Regions from separate parts of the Homo sapiens genome. Here all the other regions are linked to region 1. Evidence: fine-mapped expression QTL. A gene starts in region 1. Each other region holds a variant in brackets. All regions are shown on one strand. Distances are between the middles of the regions.

The links. PIP is the estimated chance that this variant, and not a neighbour inherited with it, causes the effect.
Region 2: its variant is fine-mapped to the expression of LBH in whole blood (TOPMed, PIP above 0.99).
Region 3: its variant is fine-mapped to the expression of LBH in whole blood (TOPMed, PIP above 0.99).

The regions. Positions count from the first base shown.
Region 1 is chr2:30,228,203-30,236,379 of GRCh38, forward strand. It overlaps LBH (LBH regulator of Wnt signaling pathway), which reads left to right and starts at 3,332. Exons shown (of 3, transcript NM_030915.4): 1 at 3,332-3,562; 2 at 6,203-6,305. The coding sequence starts at 3,537. RefSeq lists enhancers at 1,998-2,513, 2,514-3,028 and silencers at 2,832-3,381, 3,582-3,671, 4,062-4,261, 4,272-4,331, 8,027-8,177.
Region 2 is chr2:30,254,341-30,262,517 of GRCh38, forward strand. It overlaps LBH (LBH regulator of Wnt signaling pathway), which reads left to right. Exons shown (of 3, transcript NM_030915.4): 3 at 3,093-5,688. The coding sequence ends at 3,281. Among named protein-coding and RNA genes, the nearest start is that of LBH, 27 kb to the left of the region's middle. The variant A/G (reference allele first, on the strand shown) is at 3,659.
Region 3 is chr2:30,332,333-30,340,509 of GRCh38, forward strand. No RefSeq gene overlaps it. Among named protein-coding and RNA genes, the nearest start is that of LINC01936, 10 kb to the right of the region's middle. RefSeq lists enhancers at 3,658-3,707, 3,728-3,827, 3,918-3,977, 3,988-4,057, 4,918-5,107 and 1 more. The variant C/G (reference allele first, on the strand shown) is at 4,914.

The DNA.
Region 1 (8,177 bases):
GTCTCCAAAGACAAAGACGGGAGAAGGGAGGGAGTGCAGAGGCTCTGACTGGGTAATTAGTTCACTGATCTGCATCTAGTAGATGTTCAATAAATGTTGGTGATGGACTGTGGTGGTTTACAGAGTCCAGACGTTGTGTTTGACCTTTGCTGCTGACTTCTTGGCAAATGCAGTGCAAGACGCAGTGTTAAAGTGGAAAGAACATCTGACCAGCAGTCTGAAGACCTGCGTTAGGTTCCATCTATACCACTTAATAGCCTGGTGACCTTGGACATGCCATTTAATCTCTTAGGTGTCTTCTCACCTGTAAAACGAGGAGACTGGGACAAGGTGATTTGGAAGGTCTCGTTCAGCTCTAAGGTTCTGGGGCTCTAAGTAACTTCATTCGCTTGTGTTTCTGTTTCTTCATTTATTCAAAGGCAGTAGGGACAGAAACCTATCTCATAGGATATTGGGAAGAAATGGTCAGTGTGCATGTTGAAATACTCTGTATCTTTAGAGATATGAAGGAAAGGCAGTCAGCCAGAGCTATGTTAACAGAAGGGGAAGCTGAGTATGCCTACAACCTCTGAGTTCCAGGCCCAGCTCAACCACTTTCCGGCTGTGTGATCTTTGGCAAGCCTCCTAATTTATTTCGGCCTCAGTTTACATATCTGTGAACTGAGGACCATAAGTTGTGCTATGTTAACCTTATCACATTCTTTTGAAAGCCAAGACAATGAAATGCTTCAAAAAAAAAAAAAAAACCTGCAAGGCATCATATAGACTAGTATAACTGAGAAATGGCATGCTAGTTATGGTTGCATCAAAGCTTAGCCCCACGCCTCCCATATTTTATTTTATTTATTTTATTTTATTTTATTTTATTTTTTTGAGACGGAGTCACACTTTTGTTGCCCAGGCTGGAGTGCACAATTTCGGCCTACTGCAACCTCTGCCTCCCAGGTTCAAGCGATTCTCCTGCCTCAGACTCCCAAGTAGCTGGGATTATAGGCACCCACTACCACGCCCAGCTAATTTTTGTATTTTTAGTAGAGACGGGGTTTCACCGTGTTGGTCAGATTGGTCTTGAGCTCCTGACCTCAGGTGATCCACCTGCCTCAGCCTCCCAAAGTGCTGGGATTACCAGGCGTGAGCCACCGCACCCAGCCACCTCCCATATTTTCAAATGAATGGATGTGTCACTGTGATTCCAGAGGAGAAACAGAAAATGCAGACTGGGGATCACAACCCCAGGCTTATTTCTATTTTAACTTACTGACAGAGATGAACTTTAGCTAAAATGGGCATTAATAAGTTTCCCAAAGAGTAGGCCTCAGGTAATTCCCTCAATGCACTCCAATGTAGAGGATTTTTCCAGAGGCCAGATAACAGCTGGTGGAGGCCTTACTCCCCACCCTCTTCTCCAAAATGAGGCCATTTTGACATTTAGATATTTGGGAAAATGGGGAGGGAGGGAAATAGCTTTCTGAGTTTTGAAAGCTTCACATGGCAATAATCACAAACACATAAAGTGTGTCTGTTATGTGTAAAAGTGGCGCAACAGTCTTTGATCCCAGCCTCACCAGAGATTGCTACTGGGAAGAAGTGGCAGAAGGCTTCATCCTGCCCACCCGGGGTCTAGCCCAGACATTTTCCTCTGAGTGCCTGGAAGTCTCAGCCTGGAAACTAGCTCTCCAAGCATTGGCGTCTCCTGTGGCTGCCTAGATGACAATGTGCCACACCTGGCTAGTGACACTGAGAAGCTTCCCCACCCTCTGTGCAGGACATCAACAATAACCCCATCCCTGCAGCATCTCCCGTTTAGCCCCTCCATCAGGCAACACCCCCAGAGGAAGAGAATGCGTTTAGCTTGGGAGGTGGGGGAATTTCTCTGGTTGGAGGGGGCAGCCAGGGGCTTGTCATGAAGCTGTGTTTTCATAGGAAGCACACTATTTTAACTCAGGTTGTACATATAAGCATATAAGTGATTGAAAATAGCCCAGTTATTTTTAAATAAATTATTCTCATCAATTCTTATAATTTTTGTTTGGGCTGGTTTTGCGGGGACTGATGAAAATTATGAGGGTCTTCTCTCACGGCTTCCTTCAGGGTCCTACCCCTGTCGAACCTTCGCCATTAATTCTGTCATCCTTTTGCCTGAGATAAGCTATGCGTTTCCACTTTCAAGTACATATATACGGATTCAATACACTCACTGCCTTTCTTTTAAAAAGCTGATTCACTTCAAAGCCAATTTAATTTTGCTTAGTTTTTGATCTCCCCGCGCCCCCTTTCCTCAGCCCCTATACACAGGTAGGTGAGGGTTCTAAAGCCATTTTACAGGCGTGATTGAAGCGGAGGCCACAGAGCGGCAGCGCTGGGTCCCGAGTGAGACTCCCATCATGTGGCTCTGGGGGGCTGCGCAGCTTTGACTGCCTGGACAGACGCCCAGAGCTGCAATTCCTGGGCAGTGTGGGAGGCGTTCGGCTAAAGCTCTTTGTTTCTGCTGTCATGAGCGACTCCTCGGAGAAGACGTGGGAGTCAAGGATGGGGGGCGGCGTGCACACCGCCCGCCCACACCTTCTGCCCCCGCTGCAGACCGGGCGTATGTGTGTCTCCAATGGAAAAATCCTACCCAGGACGACACCACATCCTTGCTCCCACAAATAAAACCTTCCACGGAACTCAGGGCTGCAGACCAGCCCTTCGCAAGCCAACGCGCCCCGTGGGCACTCGGTCCCCCGGCTCCGCGTCTCTGCCACCTTCCCACCGCTTCTTCTTTAACCATGCTCTTGTTTCCCCTCGCTGATCGCAAGGCTGCGGGCGAGGATTCCAGAGAGAGGCCTAGTATGGGGAACAAACGCTTCAGAGGGGTCCGAGGTGGGCTGGGGACAGCCAGTGGATGGGAAGGAGGGCGCTGGCGCCGGGCGGCTGGGGTGGAGGAGTGGCGGGTGCCCTACCCCGGCGCAGAGCAGCCGCCGAGCTGTCATGTCCCGAGCGGCCCCCGCGCCCTCCTTGCGCCCACCTCCGCCGCGCTGGAGTTCGGGGTGTGCGTGGAGGGGGCTGTGAGCGGGAAGCGGCGCGGACGCGGAGTCCGGGCCGGTGCGAGTGAGCGCGTGTGCGCGTGGGAGAGCGGCGGGAGGGGGCCGGGCTCGCAGCCGCAGCGAACCACGGCCCCGGGAGCAGAGCCGAGCGCGCCCCCGAGCCGCCGCCCGCCGGAGCTGCGAGCGCTGAAGCCATTCATGATTTTGGTGACGTTATTCCAGGAGTGGGCGAGGGAGGGCGGGGCCTCTCGGGGCCAAGCCCCGCCCCCGCCCCTATAAATACGGCTTCCCGGGCTCTTTGTGGGGCTGAGTGCTCAGTGGAGAGCGGGGAGTTGTGTCCACCTTGCCGACGTCGCTAGCCGTGGGGCTGTCCTGGGAAGGCGGACGGCGAGCGCCCGGTGTCCGCACTCGGCCGCCTGCCGTGCCCGTCTGCGCCCGTGTCATCCTCACTCGGGACGCAGGGACCGTTTTTAAATCACAGGGGCGTGTGTCAGCCTGCCCTAGGACTTCATGTCTATATATTTCCCCATTCACTGGTGAGTACCCTGCGCCTGCGGCGGGCGTCTGTCTCGCGGCGGTGGCTGCGGGCCCGGGCGCCTGCTTCGTGCCGGCTCCGGGTGCGAGGGCAGCCGGCGGCGCGGGCGCTCAGCGCTAACCCGCCGCCCGAGCCCGTGCAGGAGTCAACGTCAAGGTTGCAAAGGTGGGGGTGGGGGGAGGGGGTGCTGAGAACATCCAGACAAAGGACGTGAACTCGGAGCCCTCACCTAAGTGACGGCCGGAGGGTTTGTATTGGTTGGCGGGGGAGCCAGGGGTCACGTGTGAATCCCCCCCAATGAAACCACCCTATGCGGAGAGCTGCAGGAGGCGCGCGCCCCACTTGGCGCAGGGGGGCTCCTGCTCTTCCCGGGCCCCTCCTCTTTTTCTTTTTGTTTGCATGCAAGTCTCAACGTCGAGGCCGGCAGCAGCGGGGCTGAGCTGGTGCGGCCGCAGGGTTTGCAGAGCTCCGGGGGGGTGGGGGGCGGGAAACGCTCTCCCCACACGTAACCCCACTAAAGCCACAAGCAGCAGGGCACGCGCTGCAGCCTCTCAACCCCTGCCCTCTCCACCGCCCCTAAAAACCGACGCACATTGGTGGGGGCCGGGACTGGGAGGAGCCGCCTTCGCCGTGCTGAAGGGGAAGGAGCCCGGGCCGGGCGCGGGGCGTCGGAGGTTTGCCCCGGACTGGGGATCGGAGCCGGGAGGGATGCAGAGAGAGGCAGGCCCCTGACTGCTGGGACTTCCTTGCTGGCAGTTTCTTCCTTCCTGCTCTGGGTTAGAGGAGAAGCGGCCGGGGGCGAGCGCCGGCAGCCCCGGAGCGCGCTCTCAGGTGCGGACGTGGGGAGCTCGGCCCCGAGTCTCCGGCAGGCGCTGAGCGAAGGGAAAACCGGCGCAAGCCGCGGCGGGGTCCGGCCTGGCCCAAGAAGCGGAAAGTTCATGCTTCTCGCTTCAACTTTTCGGGCCGGCGCCACAGCCCCGAGCGAGGAAGAGCCGCCCCTACGTCAGACTCTTCACCCTGCGTGCGCTCTTCTGGCTCCTTTCTTTGGAGGTCGCCAGCAGCCTTTCCAAGACCCGGGAGGAAACTGCCTTTGCAGGGCCCAGCTCCCGAACCTAAACTTGCCGCAAAGCCCCGCATCTTCTGTTAGTCTCCCTGCCCCCATCCGTCCCAGCCTGGCAGTGTTTAGAGAGGGGACTGAACTTCCCTCTCTCAACAGTTCAAGTTCCCCCACCCCGAGGCTTGTGTACCCTTCTTGTGGGTGCCCCTCCCTTGCCTCTCCCGTGGTGTGTGAGCAGCTAGGTGCCTTATTATAGGTGAAGCTTTGAAGGCTGTTGGAGGCTTTGTGCCTTTGGCTGCTCAAAATTTGCCAAGGTGGGTGTTTGGACCCATTAAGAATATTATGAGAAATTAAGGTTTAAGTTTATTTCATCGATTAGCACTTTGCAGCTTGCAATGCTTTTATGCAGACATTAGCCCTTAACCTAACTGTGAGGTATGCACTATTAGCATCAGAGTAACAGACAAACAGGACACTTGTGGCTCAGAGAAGTTACAGGACCTGTTCAAGATCACACAGTTCTTGAGGGGCAGAGCCTAGAACCTATTGCTTCTGTTTCTAAATCCAGTGTCATTTCTTATCTATGTAGTAACCATACAATTGAAGAGGCATCTGGTACCCCTGTTTCCTTAGATACTGTCCCTCAAAAGACTCCCCCATATTTTTGTTTTAAACCATGTGCACAGGCACGATGGTGGAAAGCATTGGGTGCTGTGTAGCAGGTACCTGTATTTGGTGCTTATGTTCAGCATTATGTGCACGGGATCCTGTATGTGCCCAGAGTTTGTGCAAGGATAAGGGAATATTCGTATCCTGCTTAGAGAGTACAAGGCACTTTCACATGTCAGCCATTGGTGGGCCAGCTTGGCCCCTCTGGAAATTTCCTTTGCAGTCAGAGTCGGGTATCCTTAAGGCTTTTAATCCAGGGGATGTTTTTCAAGCTGTGAGCATGCAGCTGCTGTGTCTGGGGCTAGAGAAAGGGGATGGATGGCAGATGTGAAACTTGCAGAAAAGCTGACCCCTTGGGGCTTTAAGTGGAACATTTTGCCAAAAGGAGCACCAGAGAGACAAATTTAGGAAAGCTGTATGATTGGACTTTGTTTCCCTCCAGTTGACCTGTTATTGTTATTGTGTATTAATAATATATAGAGTTCCCCTTTGGAAAGTTCATGTGAGGATTATTTTTATTCTTAGTTGGAGAAGTGAAGGGAGATGTGGTTGAATTGGTTTTAATATAGACAGATGGACTCAGCTACCTACTGTTTTGGTTTCTCTGGTTCTGTCATTTAAAGAAACATTCAGGGTCCCTCTGTGCCAGTGGGGACTAGAGTACAGGAGAGGAGGGAAGAGGTTTGCCAGAGAGGTCTGCAGACAATGGGCTTTGTCTGTTGCGGCTGAGCCCTGGGGCTGTGGGCTTGCAAGGCGCTTCCTCAGGGTGTGAGCTTGTTTTGCTGCAAGTTCTGTTTTGAACACCTCTCTTCCTGTCTCCAGACAGTCCCCTGATCCCACAGCAGTGAATGCATGAAGAGTTAGGAATGTGAAAGCGCGTGTGTTTGTTGACTTTTGGTCTGGGTTTCTTGGCAGCCCCGACTATCTGAGATCGGCCAAGATGACTGAGGTGATGATGAACACCCAGCCCATGGAGGAGATCGGCCTCAGCCCCCGCAAGGATGGCCTTTCCTACCAGGTGAGTAAGTCCTGGCTCCCCTCTGACTCTCTAGAGCCTAGTGGTTTTTGCTGGGGGTGAGGACAGACTTGGTTTTGCATCCCAGTGCCACATATAAGAGCTGTGGGACTGTGGCAGAGTCCCCTAATGCCAGTAAGCCTCAGTTTCTTCATCTGTAAAATGGGGCAACAATCGTCCTTATCTCCTAAGATTGTGGTAAAGATTCACCATGACAAGTGGATGTGTAGGAAGCATTCCTAGTGTCTGGGACAGATAAGGGCTCAGCAAGCATTAGCCATTGTGATGAATTGACCCTACTGGCTCTGTGAACTTTGCCATTCACCGCAGCAAAGGAGGAAATGATTTGTTTAGTCGATTGAGACCAGAACTTTCCTTCCCAGCCATGCCTGGGGTAGTAGAAGCATTGCTGTCGGGGGCTTCTGCAGAAGGGTGGTCTGGTGGGGATAGCCATGTCCAATGCTGCTTTCTTCCTTGGGTTGATTATTGACCTGTTGATTCAGAGTTAACATTCAAACCACTTAGAGAGGAAGATATTTTCCCCAAAGGGAGGCTAGCTCAGGGATGCTATTGCTGGGATCTTGCTTGGAGATCATCCTGTCTGGTGGATCCAAAATGCACAAGGATCACAAAAAGGGACCAGAGTGAGCCCTCTGGACTCTTACCCCAGCCCTCTCTCTGGCTTGCCCTGCTGCCTCTCTACTGCCCCTGGGTTGGGGGTGGGAGCAATGGAGCACCTGCAGTTCCCTCTGGGCTGTGAGCTGGTTTGGGGTTTTGGAGGAGAGTTCCTATGTTGTTAAACTGGGGGGAGGGAGGAGTCTCTTCTTAAGGAAGACCTTGGAGCTAGGGAAGTTGTGTAGGATGGCCAGCCCAGGGAAGTCGAAAGGGAGTGTGATGGGTCCATGGGTCCGTGCTACAGACATGAAGGTATGCCCACTGCACGCCAAGCACTCTACAGACGCTGCCTTGCTCACATCTTACCACAGCTCCCAGGCGGGGATCCTCACCCTGTTCACAGATGAGGAAATGGCTCAGCCTGAGTCAGTGACTTGGGTCTGTCTAACCCCAGAGCCTTGTTCTTCTGATGTATTGTGTGTCCACACCATGGCTTGGTTCCGCTAGGGTCTAGGTTGACTCTGGCTGGTCATTCCTTAGAACTGTTCCAGGGACATTTATTTTGTAAATTAAAAAAAAAAAAAAATCAAATAGAAAGCCAGGGAGCCAGGGTGGGTGCCATGGAGGGAAAGTAATCAGATAGAACCAAGCTAAAAGTTCAGGCAGGGTCACTTAACTTCAGACATGCTTGGGAGGCTAAGGAGGCCCCTTTGTGTTGTCTATATTGGCAGGCCTGTCTTGAAATAAGTAGCCATTAGCTTGAAGGGGGTGTGTGGAGCAAGGGGGAACTCTCTTTGCTACGTTTGACTTTTCTACCCTCCTCCCCCAGAGTGGGTCTGAGGAAGACAATTGAGGGCCCCTCAACCTGGTGGGAGGGGTAGAAGTTTCCTGGCCCACCAGCCAGGGGGTTTTGGGTAGCAGTTTCCAAGCCCCTGAGTCAGAATGAATCTCTTTGTGGTTACAGGTGAGGTTCTCTTTCGGTTCTGGGTTTTAGATTTCCATCACAGAACCTTTCCAAATGCAGTCATCTGTTCATCTTGTGTGTGCTTTTCATATTTTCCTTTTAAATACATCCCAGGATAAAGGGCCAGGCCCTATAGGGCCGTTTTCTCAATGCTTCGAGTCCTTCAGGCCATTCTGCTGGACCTGAGACTCAGGGCAGGTGGTGAGGGAGGAAGGAGCTGGGGGAGGAAGGCCAACCTGGGGCTGCAAGGGCAGCAGGAAAATAAAATCACCTCTGGGTGCCTGACACATCTCAGC
Region 2 (8,177 bases), 26 kb after region 1:
TATCTTATTGTACCGTACCTACCTATCTTGGGATTGCAGTTGACCGTGGGTAACTGAAACCAAGAAAAGCAAAACTGTGGATAAGTTGGGGGGTGGTAACTAGAATTATTGTGAGGTTTGAGATTCTGCTCAGGAAAAATTTCATCCATCATCATCATCATTAGATTTTTTTCCTTATTTTAATGAAAGACCTGTTTCCAGCTTGAAGTGAAATCCAATGCTTCCCACCCCTCTCCTCCTCTTCGTCCTCTTCCTCCTCTCTTCCTCCTCCTCCTCCCCCTCCCCCCCTCCTCCTTTTGCTGGGCCTGCCCTGCTTGTCATGCCTTTTGCTTTTCCTTGGCTTAGGCTGTCATAGTTAGAATTGGGTTTTCACTCTCCCAGCCCTGACAATGTGGCCCTGGCACAGGTAGGCACAATCCTGGCAGTGAGGTCAGAGGGTGGAGGCAGGGCCAGGCTCTTCACAGGGCAGGTCCCCCTCTCCTCTTGACAGCTTATGGCGCTGTCTTGGATCCTGAAGGTTTAAAACAAGCATTGGGACTGGGAAGCTCACCTCCTGGGCTGGGGCCCTCACAGCTGCCTGGGCAGTGAAGGCCCAGAGTCTTACTCTCCCTCCCTGCTCAGTTTTCCATCTGTGAAATGGGGTGGAGACCCAGCAGCAGCCTAATCCATTTTCCAGAAGGCTCAGGCACTGAAAACAGCAGATGTAGGTTTGAATCCTGGCTCTGCCATGTGACCCACAGAGTCCCGGGTCTTACTATTCCTAGAGTGGCAGTGAGCCCTGAACGAGCTGACATCTGAAAGAGCTTCGTGACCTGTAGTGGGCTTCCCTCCATCGGGGTCCCTCTCACCCACTCTCAGAGCTCATGCTTGGAGGGCGCCTTGTGTCCTCACAGCCCATGGGGGGCTCTGGCCCCACCCAAGAAATGAGGACGCACCCAAAAAGCCCACGTGGCGCTCCTCGCTCGGCACATGCACGTCTGGGCACAGCGCCGTCTGAGGGCAGAACTTCTGGGCCAACCTGGTCAGGAAGACAGAGCCCAGAGTCGGGGTCCGTGTCCCCCTCTGCCTCCGTGACCCACACTGGCCCATCCCCTCCCTGGACTTGTTTTCCTCCTGGCTGCCATTATGATACCTTTTATGAGCCTCGTTAAGTCTTTAATGATGCCTGGTTGTGCAGCTGGCTTAAGGCTTAATCCCCAGCAATAGGTCTTATTGGATAAATGGTTAATAATCACTCGTTTGCAGGTATTGGGAAGGCTTCACTGAGGCCTGTGATTCCTGGAAGCCCCACGTGGCCTGTGATGTGGTGAGAGTGTGACTTGGCTGGGGCAGCACTGCATGGGGTTGGGTTGCAATAAGACCGGGTATCCTCAGAGCACCACAGAAGTTGGGAAGGCCTGAGTTTGTAAAAGGGCCTTTCTTCTATGTCCTGGTAATGGGTGACTCCTGTCTGCTGCCGTGGGCCTGTCCCCATCTGGATCAAGGTGCAGGCAGGACCAGGCAGCCCCCCAGATCTCTTCAAATGTGTCTCCACCCACTCAAAGTTTTGCTTTCCTTTCTTGTGCCATGAACAAGCTGTGTGACCTTAGGCAGGTCTCCTGACCCCTCTGGGGCCTTGAGTTGCTCATCTACCAAATGGAGAGGTGGGAAGAGATGGCCATGAAGGTGCCAAGTGCCTGATTCTGGGAGCCCAGCATCCCAGACAGAGGCTTCTCTCTCTAGCTCTGGGGTGTGTCACTGAGGGCTGTGAATGGCAGGGACCAGCAGCCCAGCGGATTAAGTACTTAAACTGCTGGGCCAAGAATTGGGTCAGCTGTAGTCACAGGGCAGTGTATGCAAAGGGAATCCGCAGAGCCAGATTTGGCCCTGATTTTATAGCTGGGTTTGGAGTTTCTGCCAGCTCTGGGCAGGACACAAAGTAGGCATTAAAAAACAAAGCCTGGCTGACGGGACTCTGGAAAAAGAAGTAGACTCCTTCAGGTGTAGAGCTGGCAAGAAGCCAGGAACTGTTCACAGGTGAAAAAGGATCCTTGGATTTTGTTCCCAGCCTGCCTGTGACTGGGGACCATGCCGTTCATCAGGATTTGGCTTTGACTTTACAGTTGCAATGGGATGAGGACCCATCTGCTTGAGGGACAAGCTGGTGTTGGGGCAGGGGAATCGAACATATCCAGTTTTTGTTTTTTTTTATTTTCAAGATGGAGTCTCGCTCTGTCGCCCAGACTGGAGTCCAGTGGCGTGATCTCGGCTCACCACAAGCTCCGCCTCCCGGGTTCACACCATTTTCTGCCTCAGTCTCCGGAGTAGCTGGGAATACAGGCGCCCACCACCATGCCCGCCTAATTTTTTTTGTATTTTTAGTAGTTTACCATATGAGAGGTTTCACCATGTTAGCCAGGATGGTCTCGATCTCCTGACCTCGTGATCCACCTGCCTCAGCATCCGAAAGCACTGGGATTACAGGTGTGAGCCACCAGGCCCAGCCCAGACCCAGTTTTCAATCTCATCCCATCCCTCACTCATTTCTAGGCTGTCTGGTCTTGGACCACCTACTCTCCCAAGCCTGAGATTCTTTAAGCTAGCATTAGCAACACCTGTTTTTCAGCATGACTGTGTGGGTTGGAAGTGATATATGTATAGCACCTGGTAACCTGCTCACTTAGTGCCAATAATTATTCCGGGAGGTACTTAATGCTGTGGCACCTGTTGTATTCTTTGTACTGCTGGAGTAAAATACTTCCTGCAGAGAGAGACCAGACTTACTGTGGATAACATGATTTGGGATGATTTTATCTGCAAATAAAATACAGAATCCAAACAGAATCACATCAACCTTTAAACTCAGCGGCACTGCCCCCAAACTTTCAGCTTCAGGATTGGAATGGAAGTCTGACTGAGGGACAGTTTCCTATGTTGCCCCAGAATATTCTCCCGTGGCTCCCACCTTATATACTCCACAGCCTCCCGAGTGCAAAGCACAGTCCCTGGCCTATGGCATGCACCCAGTATGCCACATGGATGTGCAAAGAAGGAATGGAATTTCTCTTTTCAAATATCTACGTGACCAGGCACCTGCTCTGCTTTTCTTTCAGATCTTCCCAGACCCGTCAGATTTTGACCGCTGCTGCAAACTGAAGGACCGTCTGCCCTCCATAGTGGTGGAACCCACAGAAGGGGAGGTGGAGAGCGGGGAGCTCCGGTGGCCCCCTGAGGAGTTCCTGGTCCAGGAGGATGAGCAAGATAACTGCGAAGAGACAGCGAAAGAAAATAAAGAGCAGTAGAGTCCCTGTGGACTCCCATGGGTCATACCAGCCAGCATCTGTTCCTGAACTGTGTTTTTCCCATCATGACGGAAGAAGAGAGTGAGCCGCAATTGTTCTGAAAATGTCAAACGAGGCTTCTGTTTTGCACCTGCAGATCACCGAGTTGGTTTTCTTTTCTTTTCTTGCCTTTTTTTTTTTTTGAAATTTGCCGAGCAGTGGAGCCCTCTGACAATTTGCAAGGCCCTCTGAGAAAGGAAGCTGCTTAGAGCCAGGGGGTTAGTGGGTGAGGGGAGCGAGTGCTGTTTTTGAGATCATTATCTGAACTCAGGCAGCCTAGTAGAGGCAGTGGTGGGATTCCAATGGGTCTTGGTGGGTGGGAGGTGGGGCATGTGCAA[A/G]GCAAGCAAGGAACATTTGGGGTAAGAAAACAAACATGAGGCAAAAGAAAAAATACATGTTTTTAAGAAAACATTGAGCAGAGAACTGCAGCCAGGATGCGCTCAGCAGACATTCACTCTGGCTGCTGGGACATCAGAAAACAAAGTCTTCATCTCTCTCTCCAGTTTCACCCACCCCACCCTTTGCTTTCATTTCAGGTGTGTTGGTCTATATGACAGGGAGGAGAGTAAAGGAGAGCAGGAGCAATTGGCTGCCTGCAAAGCCAGCTGGAGGTGAAGTGCAGGAAAGGAAAGGTCACCCCATTCTACTCCATGGCCTCTCTGCTCCCAGCTGTGGTAGGCTCACATAGCCAGTGTGATCGGTTTTTAAGAGGCAGTGCTTTTCAGCTTTTCTCCCTGATATATCCATTTTGCTTCCCAGCACTTTTTAGGAGTAGTGAGAGCACTTCCTGCCCTTGTTGGAAGCCCCAGGGTGGACACTCAGCACGAAGGTCTCTCCCTTAACTGCTGCCCTTCCAAGACTTGCTCCCGAGATGGAGTGGGCGTGGTCTTCCAGGCTGGCCCTTCCTTCTCCTCACCGCCACCTTCCCTGCCCCAGCCCCAGCAGCCATGGGTACATGGGTCCCCAGCTCACCTATGGATTCCCGCCAGTCTGCCCAGCTGCAGTACTCACGCCCCATGGGGGATCTTGGTCTGTTTTTCTTGTGGGAGCCTAGTGGAGAGCAGACGTGGCTTTTTATGTGTCTTGTTGGGGAGGTGACTTGCATGGTGGGGACAAGGCTGTCGTGGCAACCTTGGGATCGAGTTTGAGACTAAAGGATGTCATGAGATCCCTGGCTTCTCCCCATGTTGTTCCCGGACAAGGGCAGAAGGGAGGCATGGCAAGGGACCTCTGCTGTCCTTACTCAACAGTGGTCCTCATCCCTCCCCACCTCCCACTGCTTCCTGCAAGGGCACCAGTTGTATGAGAAAGTTGGCCTTTGGACTTAGGATTTCTTATTGTAGCTAAGAGCCATCTGAAGCAGCAGGTTGCAGGACAAATGCTTCAGTCCGCCGAGAGCAGTACCGTGTGGCCAAGAGGTGGACTCAGAGCCTTCCTTGAGCTAAACTCGGCCAACCAAGGCACGCAGCATGTCCCCTCAGGTCTCCAGTCAGTCCAGGTTGACCCTCAGTTCTGGACGTGTGTATATAGCTGTATTTAATACCTCAAGGTCATTGTGGCTCTGGGGATGCCGGGGCAGGAGGACGAGGGTGCGCTGTGGACACAGCAGTCCGCGGAATTCCGTTCTGGGAAGCCAATGGTCGCCGGCACCCCTTGCTTCCTCCCTCTGTTGTCTGCCTGTGTGACACACATCAATGGCAATAACTTCTTCCAACTCCTCGCAGAAGTGGGAGAGGCCGGCAGCCTGCACCGAGAGGGGCTTTCCTCTCTCTTGCTCCCCGCTTCGTTCTGTTTTGGCTGCAGAGAGTGGTTCATCCATACTCTCATTCCCTCGCCTCCCCTTGTGGACGGGGGTCTTGCCTTTTCAATTCCTGTGTTTTGGTGTCTTCCCTTATCTGCTACCCTGAATCACCTGTCCTGGTCTTGCTGTGTGATGGGAACATGCTTGTAAACTGCGTAACAAATCTACTTTGTGTATGTGTCTGTTTATGGGGGTGGTTTATTATTTTTGCTGGTCCCTAGACCACTTTGTATGACCGTTTGCAGTCTGAGCAGGCCAGGGGCTGACAGCTAATGTCAGGACCCTCAGCGGTGGAGCCTGCTGGGGGGACCCAGCTGCTCTTGGACAAGTGGCTGAGCTCCTATCTGGCCTCCTCTTTTTTTTTTTTTCAAGTAATTTGTGTGTATTTCTAACTGATTGTATTGAAAAAATTCCTAGTATTTCAGTAAAAATGCCTGTTGTGAGATGAACCTCCTGTAACTTCTATCTGTTCTTTTTTGAGGCTCAGGGAGAAACTAGCATTTTTTTTTTTCCAAACTACTTTTTGTCACTGTGACAGTTGTAAATAAAGTTTGAAAATGCTTTCCACTCTGGTCTGGTTTCCTTTTTCCCTTCCTGTTCCGTTGGAATGGAGTGAGCTCAGGAGCAAGAAGAAGTCCTGCAGGAGGCTGAGCTGGGGGAGTCCCAAGAGAGGCTCCTTATGTAGCTCACCTGATGGCTTGTCTGGGGAGAATTCACTGGGGAGATTTAACCCACAGCCAAGGTGTGAACTACCCTTCTAAAGGAAGAAAAACCCAAGACATATCTGAAGGTCATTCACAGGGGCTGGAGGGTGAGTGGGTGGGCATGTGGCAAGCTCAGGCTATCATGCAAAGCATTTACTGAGCACCTACTGCTTGGCAGGCATTAGTAAGAGGTCAAGGTCACAAATGGCAATGGCCCTGGTTCTCATGGCCCTGCCTTGGTGAAAAATTAAATGACGAATATGGTGAGTGCAAGGCAGGATCAAACTGGGATGCCCTGAGTGTGAACATCAGTTGGGAGGGTCAGGAAGGTCTTTGGAAGCAGTGACAAGGAGAAGTTAGCCAGGTACTAGGTGGCAGGGAGCAGAGGGGAGTTGGGGGCATTGGAAAATGATTCCAACAGGGAGAACAGCTTGGCAAGGGCTTGGCGGGTGGAGTGGTAGAAGAGGAAAGCATGCAAGAGGGCTACTCAGTCCTGGCTAGGAGTTTGGATTTTATTCTAAGGGAAGGACCTAGCATGGTCTGTTTCACATTTTAATACAACCTGGCTCAATGGAGATGGGATTGGAGGGGGCAAGATGAAAAACCTAGAGACCAGGAAGGAGGCTTTGTGGAGGTCAGAGTGAGAGAATGGTGGTTTGTAGAAGGGATTTGGGGGCATTTTTCTAACCCAAGGCTATTTTTGCCTTCACCCAGCCCTCCTCCGGGTTCCTTAACCTTGGTAAGTGTAGAGAATCCAGTGGTTTGTGCTGAAGGTGTCTACCAGGATTTACAGAATAATGACCCATTTTAACACTAGCCTTAGTGAAACAACTAGATCTATGGATCTGCTGCCCCAAGGATAACTGGCCGGACTTTACCCTCCTCATATGGATTGCCCCTTTATTTTTCTCCAGCAGCCTGAAGAGGAATTTATTAGAATGCAGCCTCCTTGAACACACCCCTGCAGAAAACTGTCTTTATTTGCAGATGACATCATCTGTGTAGGAAATCCTATGAAATCTACACAAAAAAGCTACTAGAACTAATAAATGAGTTTAACATGGTTGCAGGATCAAAGCTCAATATTCAAAATGACTGCATTTCTATATGTTGGTAACACCGACAAAAAAAACAAACACTGCATGTTCTCACTCATAAGTGGGAGTTGAACAAAGAACACATGGACACAGGGAGGGGAACATCACACACTGGGGCCTGTCGGGGGGTGGGGGGTAAGGGGAAGGAGAGCATTAGGACAAATACCTAATGCATGCAGGGCTTAAAACCTAGATGACGGGTTGACAGGTGCAGCAAACCACCATGGCACATGTATACCTATGTAACAGACCTGCACATTCTGCACATGTATCCCAGAACTCAAAAAAAAAAAAAAAATAACAGAACCTTGACATTTAAAATGCAATTTACATTAACATAAAAAAATATAAACTATTTAGGAGTAACTCTGATGCAAAATATGCAAAACCTCCAAAACAATGAAAACTGCAAAACACTGCTGAGAGAAATCGAAGAATCCCTACATCAATGAAAGCTCTACCATGTTCATGGATCTGAAGACTCAATGTTAAAATGTCAATTCTCTCCAAATTGATCTATAGACTCAACACAATCAAAACCTCAGCAAGCTGTTTTGTAGACATTGATGATCTAATTCTGAAACTCCTATGGAAATGGAAAGAACCCAGACTAGCCAAAACAACTTTGAAAAAGGAAACTAAAGTTGGAGGACTCTCAGTTCTCAGTTTCAAAAACTTAATACAAAGCTACAGTCATCAAAACAGTGTGGTGTTGGCATCAAGATTGACAAATAGATCAGTGGAACAGAATAGAGTCCAGAAATAGACCCACAGATGTGTGGTTAATAGATTTTTGACAAAGGTGCCAAGGCAGCTCAGTGGAGGAAGGAAGTCTTTTCAACAAGTGGTACTGGAACAATTGGATATCCATAGGAAAATAGCCCCTGGTGATGAAAGATGAGTCTTCACTTCTGTCTCCCACTGCCTCCATGTGACTTTTAAACAAAATAATTATTTGTTTGGAAAAAAGTTTCGTTATTCTTTTTCATGGTTAGCCAGTTGCTTCAATACCCTCCTGCTTCACCCCAAGTTGCCTCCTCTTCCCTGAAGGAGAAGGATTGGGTGACACCTGGCTGACTTTGCTGTGTTATTCGAGCTGACTTGCATTCGAGTCCTGTGCAGCCCCTCCATAGGTGCTGTGGGGCCATTTTGTTAATGTCTAGGATCCTCAGTGTTCTTGTCTGTAAAATGGATATAAGACTAATAACTCCCGCATAGGGGTGTGCAGATTGAGCACCCAGTAGGTGTTCCACAA
Region 3 (8,177 bases), 100 kb after region 1:
GTATCCATGTGTGCATGCATGTCCCCATGGGCCTGTCACAGCATTCCTGAGGTGACAGACTTCAGGACAGATTTCAGGGCCACTTCACCCACAGTGGCCACTGAGCACCATATCTCTTTGGTTTTAAGGAACAAACATAAACTTTGGGTCCTCCCAGACCATAATGACTTTATTCTTACTTCCTGGCCTCATTCAGGAATACCTTGGAGAACTGGGTCATCTATTCAACTGGTCAGGAGAACCACCATGATCAGGTACCACACAAGGGCACTAAGATGTTGACATTTATTAAGATCATGCTCTGTGCCAGGCCCTTTCACTCTTCACGGTAATCTTATGAGGTGATCTCATTGAAGAATGGAAATTCTTCCCCAGGAATTTCAGGGGTAGGTATCCTATTTTTATCATTCCAGGGGAGAAAATGGAGGCACAGAAATTTAATAACTTGCCCACATGTACTCATCTTGTGACAGAGTTGGAATTTGGACTCAGGCAGTCTGGCTCCAAAGTCCAGAGTTCATGGTCTCAACCCCCAATCTCTACTGCATGGCTTTGACCCTCTGAGCACTTGCGAGGTGAGAGGCTGGGGGTGAACAATTCACTAGGCTAACTCAAAGAGCCTTGACCTTGGGCAAACAATGTAGCAGAGGATCTCACAGGAAAACAACCAGGTTCACATCCTGGTCTGTTCTCTTTGCAGCTCCTACAGAGGATGCTGTCATTGTTCCTATTACAGTTTCTTCTAGACTCCGGCCCTCATTTAGGGTTTTACATTGGCCATTTCCTGCTGGAGGAGGAGGGGGAGTTTATTACAATCAACTCCACTGCAAAGCGGACTCTCCCCACCCACAGATTTCATAGCAAGAACCCCAGCCCTTCTTTGTCTGTGTCTGAGTTAATCTGGGAGGAGGGAAAGACCCAGGCCCTGCTCTGGCTGTGCGTTCAGCTCAGGCACTTGCTTTATGTTGTTTTCTAGAACTGACAGTGACAAGTGTGGAGACACCTATCCACTGAATCCCATGTGGTAAAGAAAGGGGCATGATGGGTAGGGAGTACAGCACAGACTCATCCTGTCTGCCACTGGGACCTGAGCTTAGCAAAGAGGTAGATCATGAGATAGGGGTGCCAGGAACTAGCCCCCAAAAGCGGAGCCTTACATAGAAGTGAGTCTTCTCTGTGAGGAGGAATTTCCTGTCTTCAGTGAGATCACTAGCACAATCACCAAGAAAAATTGCTTCCGTGGCCTTTGGGTCCTGCTGGCTTTTGCTTCCTAACCACCTTCCAGAAGCCCCCCGAGACTTTGGAGCAACTGACCTGCTTACTGGCTTTTCGTCCTACCCAGATGCCCCACTCCAACTATATTAGCGAGGGTCTGGGTTGCAAGCAATAGAAACTGGCTCTAGTTAACTTAATCAGGAAAATAATTTATTGGAAAGGTCCTGGGCCACCCACAGGATAAACAGGAAGGCCGAAGAAAAAAGTACATGTAGAAGCTAAGGGTGGCAAAGGCCTAGGCGAGTCCTCATCACAGGAATTCAGCGTGGGAGGCTGCTACAGCCATCACTGCCCTACTGGACCCCATCACCTCTGGACACACTTACCCTGCCCCAAAACCCCAACTTCAGCACCACCGCCACCAACAATAACCTTGGATAGAGCCAAGAGTCTTTGTGTGGCCTCTCTAGAACAAAGTCCCAGGCAGGCACCCACAGTTGGCTGTGCCTAAGTCCCTGCTAATGTTCTAGCCTGCCAGGCTGAGCAAAGGGGTGATCTATCCCCCACCTTTGGAATGACCTTGCTGCTCATCTTTTCCGTTGTTTCCTCCCAGATAGAAAGGGCTTGGGGAGGCAGAGGATCTAAAAAGAACTTACCTTACCGCAGATTCTTCTGAAGGAGAGATTAATTAGCTATGTTGGATGGAGAAAGGCAGCCCAAGTCTCTCCTTCAGCTTCTCTGTTACATAAATGGCTGTATTTCCATTTTAGCTAAACTAATTTAAGTATGGTCTTTGTCACTTGTAGCCCAAAGAATCCTGACCCTTACCACCATCTGCCTACCTAAGGTTCTCAACCAAGGATAGCATAGCCCCCAGGGGATCTTTGGAAACATGCAAAGTATTTGTTTGCCTTTCAATGATTGCTGTTGAAAGGTACTAATACCTGAGAGGTATAGCACCGTCAAACACAGCAAAGATAGCCCTTGCCAAATGCCAGTAGTGCTGCTGATGGGAAGCCTTGCACCTACATCAACAATGACAGACATCATGGTCAGCATCTCCAGTCTCCCCACTGGAACTGGACATGGCTTCATCGCTGTCAACATGGTGCAGAGTCATGACAAATTCATCACAGTTGGGAAAACCACGCATTTGCCATCCCTGATTATATACCAACTCCCTGTCCCCACTCCCTTTTTAAAAAGCTATGGAAACTGAGACTTGGAGAGAATGCATCATTTACGCAAGGTCACACAGCTTATTTGGTGGCAGGTGGCAGTCTAGAGTCAGTCTATGGCCTCAGATGAAGGCTCTTTCCACAACACTCTGCTGCCATTGTGTTTTTCACAGAGGCAGGCTTGGAAAGTCTGGACTCGCTTTGGAATGCTCAGGTTTCCAGGGACCTCCCTGAGAGCTCCCAGGTGACTGGCTTCAAGGCTCAAGGCAGGACCCTGGGTCCCACAGTGCCACCTGCAGATGTTGGTGATAAGAGAAAGAGAGGCTCTCTGTGGAAGGGGCTGAACTTTGTGGGCAGACTTGGCACCAAGCAAAAGGAATAAACAGAGAGCTGAAGTTTCACCCAGGGGAGGATGAGGGCTCCATACAGATTTGCAGAGACTTGGCGCAGTTGCTTTAGCCAGATAATCACACAGGAGCTAATTAGCCCCTTCCTTCCCAGCTCAGCCCTCTGGGGCAGCAGGATGCTCAGTGGAGAAGAGAAACCCATTAATTACTTTATCAGGAAGTGCTGATAAGAACCCAAAAAAGGTATTGCTCTAAGGCTCTGAGCTAATTAAAGAAGGCTGCAGGGTGAAGGGATGTGTCTCACCCAGGGAAAGCAGAGCACACACTTTGATCTTGAGCCCCATAGCCCCAGACTGAGCGCAAGAAAGGGCTTCTGGGCCCCCAGGGAAACTTCACCCTTGCAGGTTCAGCAACCCCAAGACTGGGATCATTATGAATGAGGAGTCTGCTGGCAGTCAGGCCAGCTCAGCCTGGGGATGAGGGGTTCTGAAGGAGGCAGTCGGGGTCTCTCCCCCAAGATGCCACACAAATAGCATCACTGGAATGTGATGTAAGGGTGTGCATCTTCTGACTAGTATTATTATCATACCCATTTTTTCAGGGAGGAAAACAGGGCTCAAATAACATACAGTGTCCAGTCAGGGATCATTCAAGTAGGAAGAGGCAGAAACACAACTTGAACCCAGATCTCCAACTGGAAATCCATGTTATTAGCATCACGCTGTGATAGTATTCTGCAGGGTCTGAAGGTGTCGCTTCCAGCCAGGCAGGCCTGGGTTCCAGTCCTGGGATCCTTCTTTTCTTAGCTCCTAAAGCTAATTCCTTCCTTTCTCAGAATGCTTGTTTCCTCATCACGGCAGCAAGGCTAATCACACCCACTCAAATGGTTATCAGGAGGAGTATATGAGGCAAGATGACATGTGCCAACCACCTAGGACAGAACCTGGCAGCCATTAGTTTCAGTCTCCAGTGCACAATTTGCAAACTGGTTTTTAACTGCAAAAATTTTAGTTCAAATATAATCTTACAAAGATACCCAATATGCAAAGAGCTAAAACTGAAACTTCTCTGAAGGAAGGGTGATGGGTGGCTCAGCACCCCACCCACTCTGGCCCCTCTCCCACCAGCAGAGGCTCTGTTGAACACTCAGAATTTCTCAGAGCACAGTCAGGCAACCTGGATCTGGGGGAAGAAGAATGCTCTGAGATCTCAAAGGACTCTGAACACATGCCCCAGATTAAGACAAATGATATCCTTTTGTTGCACAGAGGACATTAACGATATCCTTTTGTTGCCAGAGTGGGTGGGGAGCTGAACCACCCAACAATGATAACATTGTTTCGCTGGATATTTATCAAATGGCCTAGAGAGGGTGGAATGCCTTTGGTAAGCAGGTATCCAAAGACAATAGCATAGGTCATACTGAAACCTATGTCCCAGGATGTAAGATGTTATGAGTATAAACCCTGATTCCTCTGAAGACATTGGAGAGATGCAACCGTCATCCTTGTAGTACCCGAAACATGGTATTCTGGGAGGTTGGGATTGAGGGGATGGAAAAGGGCCATTTGTCGTGGACTCTTCCTTTGATGAACTCATTTGGAATTACTATAGAAGACACCATACCCCATGGATACACGGTTTCCTGCTCCGGCCCCTCCTCTGCTAGCTTGGCTACTCAAAATCCAACTAATATTGACTGAATGTCTGCATGCCTGCTATGTATCTGGAACTCCTGAGGCACACTCGGGTCTTACTTCATTGAATCTTCAAAACTGTCCAGCAATTCAGAGACTCTTACCACAGTTTACGGTTGTGAAACTGAGGCTCAAAGCAGTTTGGGACATTAGTCCTGGACTTGCAGCTATTGAGAGGACAGGGTTCAAACCTAGCTTCACCCAAGGCCAAGTCCAGTGCTCTTCCAAGCCCCCTCCATGAAGCTTTCCAGAGAAATCCTAGCTGTGCCCAGCCATTCTAGATACTGTCCGGGAGGACACCTTAGAAGCTTAGGACAGCCTGGGTGATTCAGCCTAGAAGAACACACTAGGAGAATGGTGAGAGACCTGTGTTCTTGTCCGTTCTAATTTTAACCCGGTAGGTCCCTTCTCTAGATGTAGTTTTCTCATCTGTAAAGCTGAGAGAGTGGCTTTCTAAACCACTTCCTGTTCTGCAT[C/G]TCCTCCCCATGACTGCCTGTGTACATCTGAAAGCAATGGTTCTGGGGCCTGAGTCTCAGTCTGATGTGTTTACATGTCCCTGGTTTCTTTCGGCCTGTTCCCCAAGAACGGTCTCCAGGCCCGCGCCCTCAGTGCCCCTGAGCTGCAGCTGCTTGCCTGGCCTCCCAGCCCCAACTGCACCTGTCCAGCCCGTGCTCTGGGGAAGTTAGCAAGGAATCAGGACCCTGGAAGGTGGCACAGGCTCAAGGTGGCTGCAGAGGAGGCAACTACAAGTGCTGCTGAGGGACCTCCTCCCGGCAGCCCTCCAGAATTACTGCTCCCCAAAGTAACTCTCAGGTTGTTTTAATGAAAGATAAATGCATGCTACCCTGTGCTCAGTTTTTATTTTCTAGAATGTGTGGAACAGTGAGGGAATTGTAACATCTTTTTTGTTTTGTTTTGTTTTTGAGTCAGAGTCTCACTCTGTCACCCATGCTGGAGAGTGCAGTGGTGCGATCTTGCCTCACCGCGACTTCCGGCTCCCGGTTCAAGTGATTCTCCTGTCTTAGTCTTCCGAGTAGCTGGGATTACAGGCAGGCACCACCACGCCCAGCTAATTTTTGTATTTTTAGTAGAGACAGGGTTTCACCAAGTTGGCCAGGCTGGTCTCAAACTCTTGACTTCAGGTGATTCATCCACCTCGGCCTCCCAAAATTCTGGGATTACAGGCGTCAGCCACCACACCCGGCCTGTAACATCATTTTTTAAAAATCAAACACACAGTGAGGTGGTGTCACAACTCCTCAGATGGCTGAGAATTGTTAGGAAATGCAACCCTGTGGCTCAGACTCCACACTCAACTGCTCTCTGGAAGCATCACCTGTGCCCAACCTCACCTCAGTAGCGGAGAATTGCTGGATCAGTATACAGACTAGCGGAGTGGTTGGGAGAGTAGGAGCCGCTCTGAAGGGATCAAGCCTCAACTGGATGCAGGAATTCCGGTGGTTTATTAGCAAGAGAAGGCACTTGGAGGTGCAAGGAGTGCAATACTGAACAAAACAGCCACAGTCCTTACCCTCGTGGAGCTTAGAGTTGTCAGGGAAGGATATGGACAGTAAACAGGTAAAGTAATAAATATATATGTAATCTAAAATTGAGAAAATGCTACAAAGGTCAGAAGCAGAGTGTGTGATGGAGAATAAGGGTGTTTTTGGGTTGGAGAGAGGGACTTCCACTGAAGCAATGTTGTCAAGGATGATCCATTTGAAGGGGTAACATGTAAGCTGAGAGCTGAAAGTCAAGGAATCAACTGGGCTACAAACTGGAAAAAGAGCCAGAGGCAAGGCCAAAGGCCCCAAAAGAGGGTTCAGCAAACATTCGGTGCAGGGCCAGATAGTAAATACCTTTGGCTTCATGGTCCATCAATCTCTGTCATGCCTGTGTTCCAATAAAACTTTATTTATAAAACAGAAGCAGGAAGTATTCTGCCAATTCCTGCCCTGAAACAATAAAGCATGCATTGTGTGTTAGGAAAGAATGAGGCTGGCTAGCCGGGCCAGGGAGGAAGGGGAGGGTTTCAAGGTGAGGTGGAAAAGACAGGAGTGAGGTCATGGAAGGCTTTGTAGAACATGGAAAAGACTTCGGATTTATTGTAAAAAGCCACTGCAGGGTTTTAAAGCAGCCAAGAGACATGACTTGATTTATACTGTGAAAGATTACTCTGGTTACTGTGTAAAGAAAGAACTGGAGAGAGGAAAGGGAGGAGGCAGGAAGACCCTCTTGGAATCTACTGTAATAGCCATGGGAGAGATGCTGGTGACCCGCTATCTGGTGGAGATAGAGAAAGGCAGATGGCTTGAAGATCCAATTTGGAGATTACATCCATAGGACTTGCTGATGATCACATGTGGCAGAGGAAGAGCCAGTCCTCAAATATGGCCTTCAGGATTCTGGCTTAAGCAAGTGGGTGAATTTACTGAACTGTAGAAGATAGGAAACAGAGGGGCTAGGTCAGGGGATAGACTCAAATACGGAAACCAGAACTTCAGTTTCAGAAACACTAAAGTTGAGATGCTTGTGAGACATGTAAGTGTCGAGGTCCAGTAAGCAAATCTGATCAGGATCTGAGAGGCAGGGCATATGGGGCTTATAGGACACGCCTCCTTCCTCAGCTTGGCCCCATTTTCCCCTAGGCTCAGTTGTTGCCCTGATTCCTAGCTGGAGCAGCCCCACCGTGGTATGATGACCTCCCGGTGGTTATGAACCTCGCTGCCACTGCTATGGCCTCACCTTTCATTGCTGACTGAGCCCCACAGATGAGGGCCAGGCTTCATCAAGCCTTCCATGGCGCCTTCCCTGTCAGGGGCCTCAGTGGCTCCAGAGCCCATGTCCAACCATCTGAACTTAGGCATCTCTGACTTCTCTGGTGGCTTTCCAAAAGGGCCTAGTGACATAAGCAGAAAGTGCAAAGGACTTAACTCCACAAGTGGCAAACCTTAACCAATGTGAGCAGGAGATGGGAAGGAACTGGCAGATAAATTGTTCACCTTCCTTCCCTCAACAGTTCTGCCAAGATGCAGTGGTCCCATACTGCTTCTCTCGATGGCTCACGTGATCAAGCAATCAGCTATGTGTTTTCTTGGGAAGCTGTGGCCAGCTCCACAAAAAACTATGATGTGATGGCTTCCCTCCTCCCCTGCCTTACTTCCCCTTTGCCCTCAGTCCTGCTTTCCCTGGGATTATACCCTCCAATAAAACATTAGCCCCTAAGCTCTGCCTCAAGTTCAGTTTTGTAGGGGACCTGGGCCTATCCAACCAGTTTAGATGCTAAAAATGTTAAGCACCATCTATTTATTTCACAAAGATTTTTAAAAGTACTTATCATATGTCAGGTATTGTTCGAAATGCCTTACAAATATTAACTCATTTTATCCTTATGATGATCCTGTAAAACAGATATTATTGGTATCCCCATTTTAGAGCTGAGAAAACTGCAACAGAGAGGTCAAGTAGCCGTATAGATCAGTGCTGGCTATGGAAACAATGCAAGCCTCATATGTAGTTCTAAATTTTCTAAAAGTTACGTAAAAGTAAAAAGAGACTGGTGAAATTAATTTTAGTAATATTTTTATTTAACTTAATATAGCCAAAGTATTATTATTTCAACATGAAATCAATAAAAACCATTTTAATGAGATTGCTGACATTCTTTCATACTAAGTCCTTAAAATCCAGTGTGGGCTGGGCATGGTGGCTCACACCTGTAATCCCAGCACTCTGAGAGG